Linked DNA regions of Homo sapiens: regions 1 and 2 are each linked to region 3. Evidence: fine-mapped expression QTL. A gene starts in region 3. Each other region holds a variant in brackets. All regions are shown on one strand. Distances are between the middles of the regions.

Region 1 (5,228 bases), 52 kb after region 3:
AGTGAAGTGGGATAATCTTGGTTCACTGCAGCCTTGGCCTCCTGAGTAGCTGGGATTACAGGCATGCGCCCAGCTGATTTTTTTTTTTTTTTTTTTTTTTGTATTTTGAGTAGATACGAGGTTTTGCCATGTTGGCCAGGCTGGTCTCGAACTCCTGACCTCAAGTGATCCTCCGGCCTTGGCCTCTCATAGTGCTGGGATTACAGGCATGAGCCACCACTCCCGGCCACCAAGAATACATTTTGAAAAGAAGGTTCACATGACTAAAGGTGATAGATATCAGATGAGAAGTCATGGAATGTTAGAGTCGGAGGGAAACTGTGTGATCATTTCGTCTGATCTTTTTATTTTATATTTTGACTTGGAGAGTGACTGGCTGGGGCCACACAGCTAGCTGGTCAGCGTGGGGCCGGGGCCTGAGGTTTCTGGAGCTCTGATCATGACATAGGCATCTCCCTCATTGCCCAACAAAAGTTGTTAAAGATAGAGCAAATTTAAGTTTGATTTTAAGACACAAGGGACTCTTCTGTGGTAGTTCTTAGAATGTCTTTTTCTACTTTTTTTGTTTAAGGAATGTAGTTGAGATTTTGTTAAGCCGTTATGGCTGGATTCTGCTGGTGTCTTCAGGGACAGGGTATTATCATTTGCATCGTTTAATGTTTTGTTATTCAGGCAGGCTCAATAAAGCACTTAGGAGATTAGAGTTCTGCAGCTGGAATAAATAACAAGGCAAGATGCCCATTCCTACACATGATGCGTTGGACTCCACTGATGCTACTGCAGTGAAAGGCAATCAGTAAACAACTGTGGACAGGATCGAATGGGCTGTTGGAGATTTAGGGGCCTGTCTTGTTCAAGACCAAACAGATACAGAGAGAATCAGGGACAAGGTTTGAAACAACAAAAGGGTGAGCAATAAAACAGCAGTTTCGGGAATATTACTGGTATAAGGAATATATTTCTTCCTTGAAAGAAATACATTGGAATGCATCAAGAATCTCTTGAATATATTTTATCCTTGAATGCACATTAAATTTGTGAATTTAAGAATTGAGTGAGTGCACTCTCTTTTTTATCTTTTATCTTGCAAACAATTTTGGACCTGCTGTAATTTTGGCACACTTAATCCCTCTGCCTTCCAGATGAGCAATATCAGGTGTATAGCTAGTGTTTTCTGGACCCAGTATCAACAGGTGAGGGGGAGCATGTGAGGAGGATGAGCAAGAGTATTTGCCATGAGCACGAGTGTGTCTCACATGGTGGGGTTGGACGCTTTGTCAGGGAGATGGTGTCTGTTCTCTCACAGTAACCCATGCTTCTTTGTAGCGCTTAGCCCGATTCCAGTGAAATATCTGGTGGTGTGATTATTTATTCCATGTCCTTTCTAGCTTTGTGTGCTCCTAAGGACACAGCTTGCTCTGTCCTGTTCACCGCTATTCCTAGCTCCTTTCACAGTGTCTCACACATGCAAGGTGTTTAACAAATATTTGTTGACTGAGTAAATGGTTGCAGGTAGGAAGGAATGTTTGTCTACTGAACTTAAAGATATACACAGGGCCAGGCGTGGTGGCTCACGCCTGTAATCCCAGCACTTTGGGAGGCCGAGGCAGACAGATCACCTGACATCAGGAGTTCGAGACCAGCCTTGCCAACATGACAAAACCCCATCTCTACTAAAAGATACAAAAATTAGCTGGGCATGGTGGCAGATGGCTGTAATCCCAGCTCCTTGGGAGGCTGAGGCAGGAAGAATTGCTTAAACCCGAGAGGCAGAGGTTGCAGTGAGCCGAGATTGCACCACTGCGCTCCAGCTTGGGCAACAGAGCGAGACTCCATCTCAAAAAAAAAATAATAATAATAAAATAAAAGAAAAGATATACACAGGTGGGAGCATAGAGGTAAAGTGCACAGGCCCTCAGCAGAATTCTTGTATACAGCAACTGACTCTTCCATTGTATTTTATTATCTATTCATTTATTTTGAGACAGGGTCTCTCTGGGTTGTACAGCCTAGAGTGCAGTGGCACCATCACAGCTCACTGCATCCTTGAACTCCGGGCTCAAGTGATCCTCTCACCTTAGCCTCCCAAGTAGCTGGGACTACAGGAGTGCACCACCACACCCAAGGTTTTTTTTTGTTGTTGTTTTTTTTTTTTTTTGTACAGACAGGGTTTCACCATGTTGCCCAGGCTGATATCGAACTCCTGGACTCAAGCA[G/A]TCTGCCCGCCACAGCCTCCCAAAGTGCTAAGATTACAGGCGTGAGCCACCGTGCCCAGCTGTCATCCCATTTTTAACTATGTGTTTTTGGCAACTCATTTCACCTCTCTGTATCTTCATTTTCTCATGTATAAAATTGGATTGTAATTTCAGTCTCATGGAATTGTGAGGATTAAATGAGTGAATCCAGGTAAAGCTCTTAGTACAGGGCTGGCAATAATAAATGCTCAATAAATACTGACTCCTATTATAAATACTGACTCCTATTATTTCTTAATTACCCATCTTTTAGCTAATGAGAGATATGTTTTAAACTGTTGATTCTCTTTCCATGCAGCTTTTGGATTGCTTTGGGATTCCTGTGTTGATGGCTCTGTCATGGTTTATTCTTCATGCAAGATACAGAGTGATCCACTTCATCGCCGTGGCTGTCTGTCTGTTGGGTGTAGGAACCATGGTTGGTGCAGACATACTAGCAGGGAGGGAAGACAATTCAGGTGAGACGGTGTCACATGTTTGTGCTTCAATCACAGCAAATTTGTTTATGTTTTCACTTTTATATCAACAAAGAAACTTGTTTACTGGAGTATTTCTTTTTAAGTCACTGTGTAGGTGAGAACACTTTGCCACACTTTGTGTTGAATTCAGTTGATAGTATAAAATCTAATTGAGGTCTATGAATTCATCCAATCTTCAAGTGAGTTAAACGTCTCCTTGGATTGAGAGAGAAAATTACAGTTGATACTATAAAATCTAATTAAGGTCCATGAATTCACCCAGTCTACAAGTGAGTTAAGTGTCTCTTTGGATTGAGAGAGAAAATTATAGTTGATAGTATAAAATCTAATTAAGGTCTGTGAATTCACCCAGTCTACAAGTGAGTTAAGTGTCTCTTTGGATTGAGAGGGAAAATTACTTTGAAAGCAGGTTCCCATTTTTCAAATTGACCTACCCCTTCAATGAACTCCATTAATTTGTCATGTCATGGAATCATTTTCTGAGGCCTTACATTATGATATATATCATCAGTTTCTAGCCTGTTAGACTTCTGAGGAGTTAAATTATGAAAAATTACAGCAGAATTGCACCAGAAAGTGAGAAGAGTAAGAGATTTTAAACTTCTAGTAACCAGGTTGGGTGCGGTGGCTCACACCTGTAATCCCAACATTTTGGAAGGCCAAGGTGGGTGGATCACCTGAGGTCAGGAGTTCGAGACCAGCCTGGCCAACATGGTGAAACCTCGGTCTCTACCAAAAATACAAAAATTAGGCCAGGCACAGTCGCTCGCACCTGTAATCCCAGTACTTTGGGAGGCCAAGGTGAGCGGATCACTTGAGGTCAGGAGTTCAAGACCAGTACAAATGCAAAAATTAGCCAGGCATGATGGAGGGTGCCTGTAATCCCAGCCAGTTGGGAGGCTGAGGCAGGAGAATCACTTGAACCCGGAGGTGTAGGTTGCAGTGAGCTGAGATTGCGCCACTGCACTCCAGCCTGAGCAACAGAGCAAGACTGTCTCAAACACACACATACACACACACACATACACACACACACACTCTCACACATAAACTTCTAGTAACCAGTTTCTTCTTCTTTAGTGTCATTTAAATGAACACGAGTCAGATGACCGCCTGGAGGCACGCTGTGGAGGTTCATCTGTTGACAGTGTTTTGCTTTCTGTGGCTTGTCTTCCTGCAGGGAGTGATGTATTGATTGGTGACATCTTGGTCCTTCTTGGGGCTTCCCTCTATGCCATTTCAAATGTTTGTGAGGAATACATCGTGAAGAAGCTGAGCAGACAGGAGTTTTTAGGAATGGTGGGCCTGTTTGGAACAATTATCAGTGGTATACAGCTGTAAGATTCTACAATTTTTTTCTAAAGACAAAATAAGCAAATATATTATAGATGATAACTACTAATATTCATTGTTTATTTGGCCCAAATTCACATTTGGAATTAGTATTAGGTGGATGCAAGAGTAATTGTGGTTTTGCCATTACCTAATAACTTGCTGAGTGTCTACTAGAGGATTGTTAAAACATCAAGAATTACTTCCTATTTTCTTAAACATGTGTGTTGCTTAGGATTCCTGATTACCATGTGGTAGAGGCATTTGCCAGTAAGGAGTTTTTTTAGTTATTTCCAGAAAATATTAACACATTAACTTCCTAAGCTTATTCAAAAACAAAGCATAATATCATATTTTCCTCCTATACTTGACTATTATTTCAGAGCACCTGTAAGGGAGTCAAACATATCTTTATGAACTCCTTTGGTTTTATTCTTTGTCATTTTTATTAAAGATCGTTATTTTTATATTCTAAGACAAATTCAAATGTCCATGTAATTCCTCACTTTAGCTGAAGTATAGTGACTAAAATGCTTATAAAATAGTGAAAATTAGTATGTGGACCTCTCTGTGACCTCTTGTTTTAATCTTAGATTGATTGTGGAATATAAGGATATTGCCAGCATTCATTGGGACTGGAAAATTGGTATGTAAAGAAATAATTCCTTTTAGTCAGCATTCTTTAACAAACAAATGAACATCTAGAAATATGTGCTTTATTTTAATAATATTTAGACGTCTTTGTAAAATCCAGGAGTGATTTAATACATATCAACTATAGTGGTTTACATTGAGTTTTCTCTGAAAATTGGTAGATAAGCTTCCATAAAAGTTAATTCTTAATCTTTACCTGCAGGAATAGCCTTTGGTTACTAGGAATCCTGAACAAGACTGGAGATTGACCTTTGGTCAAACCAGCTTTCAATTAGATCTGTATCTTGGGTCCTCAAACTTCTTGCGAAGGTTGTCTGCTTGATATAATTTGTGAAGCATTAACCTGAATCATCAATGGTGTGAAATCTCCCTCACCTCCCATTGCTCCTGTCATCTGATATTCCTAGGCATCTGCATAAATAAATAAAGGAAAAGAAAATGGTGATGGGACAGTCAGAAAAGATTGGAACCTGGTTTAATGATGGGGTGGGGAGAAGTTAAACAGTAC
Region 2 (5,228 bases), 28 kb after region 3:
GATTACAGGCATGTGCGACCACGCCTGGCTAATTTTGTATTTTTAGTAGAGACAGGGCTTCACCATGTTGGCCAGGATGGTCTTGATCTCTTGAGCTCGTGATCTGCCCACCTCAGCCTCCCAAAGTGCTGGGATTACAGTCGTGAGACACCGCATCCAGCCATTTCAACTCTCTTAGCTTCAGTTTCTTCATCTGCAACCACACAGCATTGGCAAATGGATCAAAAATAAAATAAGATAGGGTATAGAAGAGTTTTTGTAAACTGTGAGACACTATAAAAAACATAGACAAGGTATTCTGATGGCGTCCATTAGCATGAATGTAATAAGTAAATAAATAATACTTGATGATGATGGATGCCCCACTGGCAAGTCCAGGGAGCTTTAAGTCAGCAGTTTGGAAATCTCAAATTGTCAACAGAGGATCACAGACCAGAAGAGGTTGGGAGAGAAACAAAAGATGGAATGTGAGCTGCAAATCCAAATTAGCCACAAGGATTAAACATGAGGAGTTGAGGGGAAGCCTTCCAATGTTATATTTTCTTCTAGTCCCTGTACTTTCCTGACAGAATGTAGATTTTGTTTGTTTGTTTTTGAGACAGGGTCTCACTCTGTCACCCAGGCTGGAGTGCAGTGGCATGATCATGGCTCACTGCAGCCTTGAACTCCCTGGGGTCAGGTGATCCTTTCATCTCAGCCTCCTAAATAGCTGGGACTATAGGTGCATGCCATCATACCCGGCTAATTTTTGCATTTTTTTCTGTAGAGAAGGCATTTGATCATGTTGCCCAGGCTTGTCTTGCACTCTTGGGCTTCAGCAGTCTGCCCACCTTGGCCTCTCAAAGTGCTGGGATTACAGGCATGAGCCACCACACTTGGCTGTAAATAGATTTCTCATTGTTTGAAAACTAGTATGTACAGAATAAAAAGAAAATAACAAAAAATTTCCACAATCCCACCCAAATTATCTGGTTCTTTTAAGGTTTAGTCAATCAGGCAATTTGATCCATCAATCAATTCATCAAGTCATTGACTTCTAAACCCTCCCACTACTATCTTTTGGCTCCAGGCCTTTTCTTGTTCTCGTAGATTCAGAATAGAATAAACCAGTTCCGGGAACTAACAACATTGGGAATGCTCAGAGGTAGAAGCTGTCTTGATTGGAAATATCCTGAGTTACAACTAAAGTGACTGGATATAACCTAGTGGGTTACTTGCTGGATCTAGACCCATACTAAACTTGCTCTGCTCCAAACTTCTGTTGTATTGTTATAGAATACTGCAAAATTAGCTCACCCACCCCATCCTTTAGTCTAAGAAATGCAGTATAACATTTGGTGAAGATCAGCAGAAAAAAAAAATATTTTGCCAATTTCAGAAATGTCCCGCTCCATAAGAAACTATAACTGGTGTTATAATGTATAGGGTAATTTTTGGAAAAGCTTGCTTTATTGCTTCATTAAATAGTGAGACTGTGGTTTTGGCAAAACCTTATGAACATATTTCTAGAGTAGTAGATAAGAAGGCTGACACCTGAACCTCTTGATTCCTGTTCTTTGCCAGAATTTTCCAGTTCTCTTTGTCTGGAACATCATGATCAGTTCATTTGGTAGTGACCAGTCTCTGGAGAAAGTAGCTCTTGCTGTTCAAACTTACACTTACACTTGAAAAGAAAGGTGGTAGTTTTTAATGAGAATTGTCACTGCTAACTTTGACAGATGGTCACAAGACAACCATCTCAAAAGAAAAACCTACCTGGGAAATATAGGATTAATGTTGCTTGGTGTATCTAGAACAAGGGCAAAGAAATTACATGTCCCCCCACTTCACGAAGATAATTTTGTATCTGCCTTGCAACCAGATAAGATTGTCTTGTTGGTTGGGTGTGGTGGTGCACGTCTATAATCCCAGTGCTTTGGGAGGTCTAGGCATGAGGATCGCCTGAGGCCGGGAGTTTGAGACCAGCCTGGGCAACATAGTGAGTGAGGCCTTGTCTCTACCAAAATTTTAAAAATTAGCTGGGTGTAGTGGCATGTGCCTGTAGTCCCAGCTATGTGGTAGGCTGAGATGGGAGCAAATACTATCACCCTGTCCCATTCCAATGAGTTTTGCAACTTATTTTACACTTTTATTTTTAAGTTGAATGCTTCCTGATAATCACATTTGGGTTGACACATTTCCAAGTTAAACTGTAGATTGATTTCTTCTTGTAATCCATTTGTTCCTACTTGTTCCAGTTGAACTAACAGAGGTTTCAGAAAGGTCAGCTTTCTCCGGTGGCATTTTTTACCTTTGCAGCAATTGTGCCAGCCCGTATTGATTCATATCCTGGATAAACAAAGAGGAATATGACACTGTTTCTGTCTTTTAGGAGCTTGTGACCTACCTGGGTAGCCATATACATAGTAAGTAGAATACAGTGTGAGACATTTTATATTAGATCAGCAATCTTCAGGTTTTTCTTCCATTATGAACCCCTTTTATTATTATTTTTTGCCAGGAATCTTATGTTTTGAAAGATTTTGACACCCTTTCCCCAATACTCATTTGTTAAGTAATAATGAGTTTATTTTTTTCTCTCTCTCTTTTAACTAATCAGACACCTGAACTTCTGATTAGCAAGAGAAAATGATTGTTACCACACTTGGTTGATATAATTAGAGCTGAAGGCAAATACATGTGATGTTTTGGCTTGTCTGAACAGCCTTGGCATGGGTACATGTAGGGTTTCTGTTGGCTTAAAAAAAATTTTATGGGAACATTCAAATAAAAGTAGAGGCTGTTCTCTTTTTTTTTCTTTTCTTTTTTTTTTTTTTTT[G/TTG]AGACTGAGTCTTGCTCTGTCTCCCAGGTTGGAGTGCAGTGGCGTGATCTCGGCTCACTGCAAGCTCCGCCTCCCAGGTTCACGCCATTCTCCTGCCTCAGCCTCCTGAGTAGCTGGGACTACAGGCATCCACCACCATGCCCAGCTAATTTTTGTGTTTTTAGTAGAGATGGGGTTTCACCATGTTGGCCAGGATGTTCTCGATCTCTTGACCTCGTGATCTGCCCGCCTCGGCCTCCCACAGTGCTGAGATTACAGGCGTGAGCCACTGTGCCCAGCCAACAGTATTTTCTTCTTAGGATAATGTTTTTAAATGCATAAATATTAAAAATTATAATGGAAACCAATTGCAAAGATTTAGTTGTCAAATTATTAAAAAGCAAATTGGGATATATGTTAATATAGAGGCTTCTTTTCTTTAAAATTTACTAAGTAACAAAATATCACAATGAGTTTTTAATTACAATTTTTTTTTTTTAACTTTTATAGAGATGAGGTCTTGCTATTTTGCCCAGGCTGGTCTCCAACTTGTGGCCTTAGGTGATCCTCCCGCCTTGGCCTTCCCAACGTGCTAGGATTACAAGTGTGAGCCAGCATGCCTGGTTTACCATGATTTTGGAGTAGTGATGAATATAAATTTTATTTGAAATTTTAGCTATAGTAGCCATACGAAGTGAAAATATCTGTGAATTCTTTTGGCAGCAAAGTCTTAGGTCTTGCTAGCACCACTATAGTTTGTTGCCTATGTTTATAATTGAAGGGATTGTTAAATTTTAGTTCAATGTTACTGAAAATGAGGATATATATATTTTTTTCTACTGAAGTTCATAGACCCTAGAATATTTTCATGGACCTGGTCCATGTGCCCCAGGTTAAAAACTCTGTAGTCTTTTTTTTTTTTTTTTTGTGAGATTTCATAGGTATTATGTACTACCATCAAGAGGTGTCTTAATTTGTTTTTTGTTGCTATAAAAATATGCAAGACTGGTAATTTATACAGAAAAGAAGTTTATTTCATATAGCTCTAAAGGCTGGGAAGTCCAAAGATTGAGCAGCTGCATCTGTTTGGCTTCTGGTGAGGGCCTCATACTGTGTCATAGCATGGTGGAAGGCATCACAGGGCGAGAAGGGTGCACTGGGAGTCAAACAAGTTTTTTTTTTTTTTGAGATGTAGTCTCACTCTGTCACCCAGACTGTAGTGCGGTGGCACGATCTCTGTTCACTGCAGCCTCTGCCTCCTGTGTTCAAATGATTCTCCTGCTTCAGCCTCCCAAGTAGCTGGGATCACAGGCACCTGCCACCATGCCTGGCTAATTTTTGTACTTTTAGTAGAGATGGGGTTTCACCATGTTGACCAGGCTGGTCTCGAACTCCTGACCTCAGGTGATTGGCCCACCTCAGCCTTCCAAAGTGCTGAGATTACAGGTGTGAGCTTTTTTTTTTTTTCTTTTTTTTTTTTCCTACTGACCTCCTGCTCCAAGACAGTCTCACTCTGTCGCCCAGGCTGGAGTGCAGTGGCGTGATCTTGGCTCACTGCAGCCTCCTCCTGCCAGGTTCAAGCAATTCTCCTGCCTCAGCCTCCTGAGTGGCTGGGACTACAGGCGTGCACCACCACTCCTGGCTAATTTTTTGTATTTTTAGTAGAGACAGGGTTTCACCATGTTGGCCAGGCTGGTCTCGAACTTCTGGCCTCAAGTGATCTGCCCACCTCGGCCTCCCAAAGTGCTGGGATTACAGGCATGAGTCACTGCGCCCGGCCGGGATTAAGTTTCAGCATGAGTTTTAGAAAGGGCAGATATTCAAATCATAGCAGGAGACATATAATTTTTTCTTGTCTCTTTCTTTTTTGTTGTTAGGAGCTATTGATGTTTTGTCTAGATCCATTATTTTATTAGGGCTCCTAAAGTGATATTTTATTTGTCATCCCATCTTAATTCATTATACAGACTATTTCCACAAGGACAAACTCCTTTTCATCAACTCTTTGATTACCCTGAGGTATAATTTGTATAAGAAGGGCAGGATAAACATTAATTCATTTCTTTTATTCACTAGTCTTCAAAATAGTAAGTTCATTCCCTAGCACCCTCCAAAGAAGACCAGCAAGTTAAAAAAAATTTTTAGTATTGCTATTTTTTTTTTTTTTTTTTGAGATGGAGTTTCGGTCTTTAAGGTAGGCTGGAGTGCAGTGGTGCGATCTCAGTTCACTGCAACCTCCGCCTTCCGGTTTCAAGCGATTCTCCTGCCTCAGCCTCCTGAGTAGCTGGGATTACAGGCTCCCGCCACTGGCACAGCTAATTTTTGTATTTTTAATAGAGACGTGGTTTCACCATGTTGGCCAGGCTGGTCTTGAACTTCTGACCTCGTGATCCACCTGCCTCAGCCTCCCAGAGTGCTGGGATTACAGGCC
Region 3 (5,228 bases):
AGTTTTTTTTTGGGGGGTGTGTGTGTGTGTCTGTGTGTGTGTTTTAAAAGACTGTCTCACTATGTAGCCCCAGGCTGGTCTGAAACTCCTGAGCTCAAACAATCCTCCTGCCTCAGCCTCCTGAAGTGTTGGGATTACAGGTGTGAGCTACTGTGCCTGGCCCCCCACCCTCTTTTAAAGTTACTGGTGTTGACGTGTATCTTCTATTTTTCTTCATACTCACATAATCAAACATAGTAGTCCTCCCTTATGTTTCAAGACCCCCGGTGGGTGTCTGAAACTGCAGAGAGTATTTAGCCCTATACAGTATATACTTTTTTCCTACACATACCTATAATAAAATTTAATTTATAAAATTGGCACAGTAAGAAATTAACAACTCATAATAAAATAGAACAATTATAACAATATACTGTAATAAAAGTTATGTGAATGTGGTCTCTCTCTCAAAATATCTTACTATACTCTAGTCACCTATTTTCAGAGGGTAATTGGCTGTGGTAACTAAAACCGTGGAAATCAAAACCTCAGGTAAGGAGGTGACTACTGTATATATTGCAAATAAAAAATCAAATTTGGTTAAGGAGAGACTTTATTTGTAGGGATTATTGCAAATGGGGATGGGTGGGGACTGTGGGGAAGGGTTCCTGCAGTAGGAGGGGGCCTATTCCCTACTGGTGGGAAGTGGAATGAAAAGGTGGCTCTCCACTGGATAATAGATTAGAGAATGTTTCACCCTGAGGCCAACTTCTCAGGAGGGGCTATTAAGGAGGGGTTACCTGCGGCTCAGGGTCAGGGTGGGTGAAAGTTCAGAGGTATGAGGGAGGAAGAGAAATTCAACCAAAATCTTTGATTAAAAAAAAAAAGGTGGGAGGCTTCTTTTCTTTTCTCTTTCTTTCTTTCTCTCTTTCTCTCTTTCTTTCTTTTTTTTTTGAGACAGTCTTACTCTGTTGCCCAGGCTGAAGTGCAGTGGCACGATTTTGGCTCACTGCAACCTCTGCCTCCCGGGTTCAAGTGGTTCTCCTGCCTTAGCCTCCCAAGTAGCTGGGATTACAGGCACACACCAAAACGCCGGGCTAATTTTTGTAGTTTTAGTAGAGACGGGATTTCGCCATGTTGGTCAGGCTGGTCTCGAACTCCTGACCTCAGGAGTAATCCGCCCGCTTCGGTCTCCCAAAGCACTGGGATTACAGGCGTCAGCCACCGCGCCCGGCCTAGGAAGGTTTCTTAATTGTCATTACTTTCCAGGAGCACAGGGCTCAGGTAGAATTCAACGTTGTCAATATGCAGGGTTAAATGAGTTGTTTACTTTACAAAAGTGACATCTTAAATGTGCTTCTAATGTCCTCTTGTTTCATAATATGCTTGTATTATAATACTTAATTAGTCTCTACGGATGACCACGTTCTTAGTTTCAAAGGTTTTTTTGAGGTTCCTGCAGCTGCTAAACTTGGGGTTCCTGAAGTAATATTTCATTTTCGAAAGCTGTTTTTTTTCTTAGACTCCTCTTACAGAATTGCCAGCTCGTCTGCACAGCCTGTCTATTTGAACCTACGTTTATTTTGACCCACCCCAACCCCCAAAGCAGGTGGCCAGGAAAAAATAAAAGGTCCCAACACCTTTTCTTTTGTTTTCTGGATCTCCTCCTTTCCGGAAGCAGGGGGTCAGTGACAGGAACTTTTCGACCCCAGCTTAGTGTCTCTTAATCCCTCTTTAGCCCGTGGAAGCCTCGGAAGGCGTGGCCAGGGCAGGGCATCCAAGCCGAGCGCCGGGGGTTGGCACCGTCTCTCTCCCTGGCACGGCGGAGACAACTGAATACTGAAAGACAAAACCAACACACCGCGAGGAATGAGCCACGCCTCCATCCACGCCACAAAGGCACGTTTCCAAGATCTTTTTAGGATCTTACCCATGTTTTGCAGGGAAAAGCGACACAGACCTGAAGCGCCTTCAGGTTTTTTTTTTTTTTTTTTTTTTTTTTAAGACGACGTCTCCCTCTGTTGCCCAGGCTGGAGTGCAAAGGCGCGATCTTGGCTCACAACCGCCGCCTCCTGGGTTCAAGCGATTCTCCTGCCTCAGCCTCTCGAGTAGCTGGGACTACAGGCACCCGTCACCACGCCCGGCTAATTTTTGTATTTTTAGTAGAGACGGGGTTTCACCATATTTCCCAGTCTGGTCTCGAACTCCTGACCTCAGGTGATCCACCCGTCTCGGCCTCCCAAAGCGTTGGGATTACAGGTGTGAGCCAACGCGCCCTGCCAGCCTTCAGTTATTTTAATGAAGCGATTTTGTACAAATCAGCCAGAGGGAGGGAGAGTGGGAGGGAAGAGGAGGGGTCAGCCAGTCCTTCCAGTTAGGAGAGTCCCGGCTCACTCACTGCTTCTAACTCACTGCTCACTCACCGCTTCTTAGCTTAGGAATCACCTACAATAACCTCGTGTCACTGTATCTTGTGATTTCAAACAAGGAACCCTAAAAACCTGAAGGCACACTGGGTGCCGCTCAACAATAAGGCTCGGCTGCCAAGACGAAAAAAAAATTGCCCTTTCTCCTCCTGCCACCCTGGAGGTGCCAGGTTGTAATCTGCAAATGTATTGTCTGGCCCTTAGGGCTTGACAGTTAATGATTGGTCGCTGAAGGAGCCGAGCGGAGGAGCGAGAGGGACGCGAGCAAGCGAGCGAGGGAGGGAGCGCAGGGCCAGAGCGGAGCCCCAGCCGGCCGCACAGGCACCGCCTCCCGTCTTCCGGGACCCGGCACTTCGGGGGTTTTGGGCGCCGGAGACGCGCAAGGGCGCCGATGGAGGCAGACTCGCCAGCGGGCCCCGGCGCCCCAGAGCCCCTCGCGGAGGGAGCGGCGGCCGAGTTCTCCAGCCTGCTGCGCAGGATAAAAGGCAAACTCTTCACCTGGTGAGTGGAAGGGGCGTGCTGCAGCTCCGCTGGGGCGTGGGGGCGGCTGCGGGCCCTGCGCGCACGTGGACAAGGAGCACACTCTCTGAGGCCCCCAGCAGGGAGGCAGAGGTGGCGGCCGCACGGACTTCGGTTCGGGGCTCAACACGCACACCAGGTATGGTGCGCTTCACCTGGCGTCGGGAAGCACTTGGTGCGTCTCCCTCGGCTCCCGTTTCGAAATCGTGGCGATGTATTTTGGAGGATTTGGGGGGAAACCCACCCTGTGGCACTATTAGGTCGGTCCTCTGGGGCGTTCCGCGGTGGAGGGACGAGGTCCCCGGGGATGCTGTGAAGGAGGAGTGCCCACCTCGGGCTGGGCAGGTGGGTGAGCGCCACTTCCTGGCGCCGGCGCCCTCATTCCATCTGCTGCCGAGCCAGCCAGACTGGGCGCGGTGATTCAAGAGTTGACCGAAGTGAGAAATCCTGGTTAAGTTTTGTGCTGCTGCCGGGTGGGAGACCAGAGCCGGCTCTCTCTTCCTGGGCCTGAGCGAGGTGATATAGCCACCCCCAGGGCTGGGGTCCAGGGAAGCCTGTTTGTGGTATCACTATGCTCTGTGCGAAGTAGGGACAAATGTTTTTAAGGAGTGGGCAGCGACTCTAGAAAGCGTTTCTGTGGTTGCTGGAGGACTTGCACTCTGGAAATGAGAGAACCCAGGACCTAAATAGTGAAAGACATTTATTGGGCACTCGCTCTGTGTCAGGTACTGTGCATAACAATTTATATGGATAATATCAGCTAATCCTCACCACTTTAGGAGATGGTACTATTGTTATATCCACTTTGCCGCTGGAGAAACAAAGAAGGCTAAGCAATTTGCCCAAGGCCACAAGATGATCTTTAAGGGGTGATGCGTTCAAGCCGTAGTCTAAACAGCGTTGGCCACTGACAACTCATGAAACAGATATTTGATTTTTTTTTCATATTAACAAAGCGAATTTCCCTTTAACGATTGTGAAAGATAGTCCTGAAAAGCCATACCATTTTAAAAACGAGATCGATAAAGGTGTAAGCATTTTTTATCATATAAATAGTTTGAAATTGATGCATGTGTTTAAAGGGGAAAGTTGGCCGAAAACCACCTTGTAGCATCCAGTTGTGTATGTCCTGATACATTTGTTAAAAGTTCTCAGCTGGGAGGCAATTCAGTGTAATGGCTAAGGGCACTCACATTCTGGACTCAAATCCTGGCTGGGTGACCTTGGACAAGTCAGTTCTCTGTGCTCCAGTTCCCTCCCTTCCCTCCCTCTCTCCCTCTCTCCTTCCTTCCTTCCCTCTCTCTCCTTCCTTCCTTCCTTCCCTCTCTCCTTCCTTCGTTCCCTCTCTCCTTCCTTCCGTCCTTCCTTCCACAAGTCAGTTATCTGTACTCCAGTTCCCTCCCTCCCTCCCTCCCTCCTTCTTTGTTCCTTCCTTCCGTCCGTGTCCGTCCGTCTTGGACAAGTCACTTAACTTCTCTGTGCTCCAGTCTCCCTCCCTCCCTTCCTTCCTCCCTTCCTTCCTCCCTTCCTTCTGCTGGGTGACCTTGGACAAATCAGTTCTCTGTGCTCCAGTTCCCTCCCTCCGCCCCTCCCTTCCTTCCTGCCTTCCTTCCTTCCTGGACAAGTCACTTCTCTGTGCTTCAGTCTCCCTCCCTCCCTTCCTTCTTGGACAAGTCACTTAACTTCTCTGTGCTCCAGTCTCCTTCCCTCTTTTCCCTCCCTCCCTCCCTCCCTTCCTTCCTTCCCTCCCTCCCTTCCTTCCTTCCTGCCTTCCTTCCTTCCTTCCTGGACAAGTCACTTCTCTGTGCTCCGGTCTCCCTCTCTCCCTCCCTCCCTCCCTTCTTGGACAAGTCACTTAACTTCTCTGTGCTCCAGTCTCCCTCCCTCTTTTCTCTCCCTCCCTCCCTCCCTCCTGACGGAGTCTCATTCTGTCACCTTCCTTCCTGACAGAGTCTCATTCTGTCACCCAGGCCTGAGTGCAGAGGCTCTATCTCAGCTAACTGCAACCTCAACCTTTCGGGTTCAAGCGATTATCCTGCCTCAGCCTCCGAAGTAGCTGGGATTACAGATGTATACCACCACGCCAGGCTAATTTTTTCATGCTTTTAGTAGAGATGGGGTTTCCCCATGTTGACCAGGCTGGTCTTGAACTCCTGACCTCAAGTGATGCACCCACCTCCGCCTCCCAAAGTAGTGGGATTACAGGCGTGAGCCACCGCGCCCAGCCTGTGCTCCAGTTTTCTTATTTGTAAAATGGAGATAATAACAGTACCTACCTTGTAGTGCTGTTACAAGGTTACTATG

Direction of the effects. Alleles are on the strand shown, and positions count from the first base shown. SD is a standard deviation of normalised expression in the study named. Not every link is listed here.
In carriers of allele TTG in region 2, the expression in fibroblasts of the gene that starts at base 2,777 in region 3 tends to be higher than with G alone (moderate effect, 0.54 SD a copy in GENCORD).

What was found. PIP is the estimated chance that this variant, and not a neighbour inherited with it, causes the effect.
Region 1: its variant is the best candidate, but not a certain one, in a credible set for the expression of SLC35F2 in aorta (GTEx, PIP 0.80).
Region 2: its variant is the best candidate, but not a certain one, in a credible set for the expression of SLC35F2 in fibroblasts (GENCORD, PIP 0.51).

The regions. Positions count from the first base shown.
Region 1 is chr11:107,804,202-107,809,429 of GRCh38, reverse strand. It overlaps SLC35F2 (solute carrier family 35 member F2), which reads left to right. Exons shown (of 8, transcript NM_017515.5): 4 at 2,554-2,713; 5 at 3,915-4,071; 6 at 4,660-4,712. Among named protein-coding and RNA genes, the nearest start is that of SLC35F2, 52 kb to the left of the region's middle. The variant G/A (reference allele first, on the strand shown) is at 2,217.
Region 2 is chr11:107,828,174-107,833,401 of GRCh38, reverse strand. The region is part of intron 1 of SLC35F2 (solute carrier family 35 member F2); the gene reads left to right. Among named protein-coding and RNA genes, the nearest start is that of SLC35F2, 28 kb to the left of the region's middle. RefSeq lists enhancers at 1-93, 94-639, 640-1,185. The variant G/TTG (reference allele first, on the strand shown) is at 2,819.
Region 3 is chr11:107,856,336-107,861,563 of GRCh38, reverse strand. SLC35F2 (solute carrier family 35 member F2) reads left to right here and starts at 2,777. Exons shown (of 8, transcript NM_017515.5): 1 at 2,777-2,906. The coding sequence starts at 2,797. It overlaps LOC124902746 (a long non-coding RNA gene), which reads right to left and starts at 2,334. Exons shown (of 2, transcript XR_007062876.1): 1 at 1,910-2,334; 2 at 575-1,818. RefSeq lists a silencer at 2,652-2,961 and an enhancer at 3,182-3,251.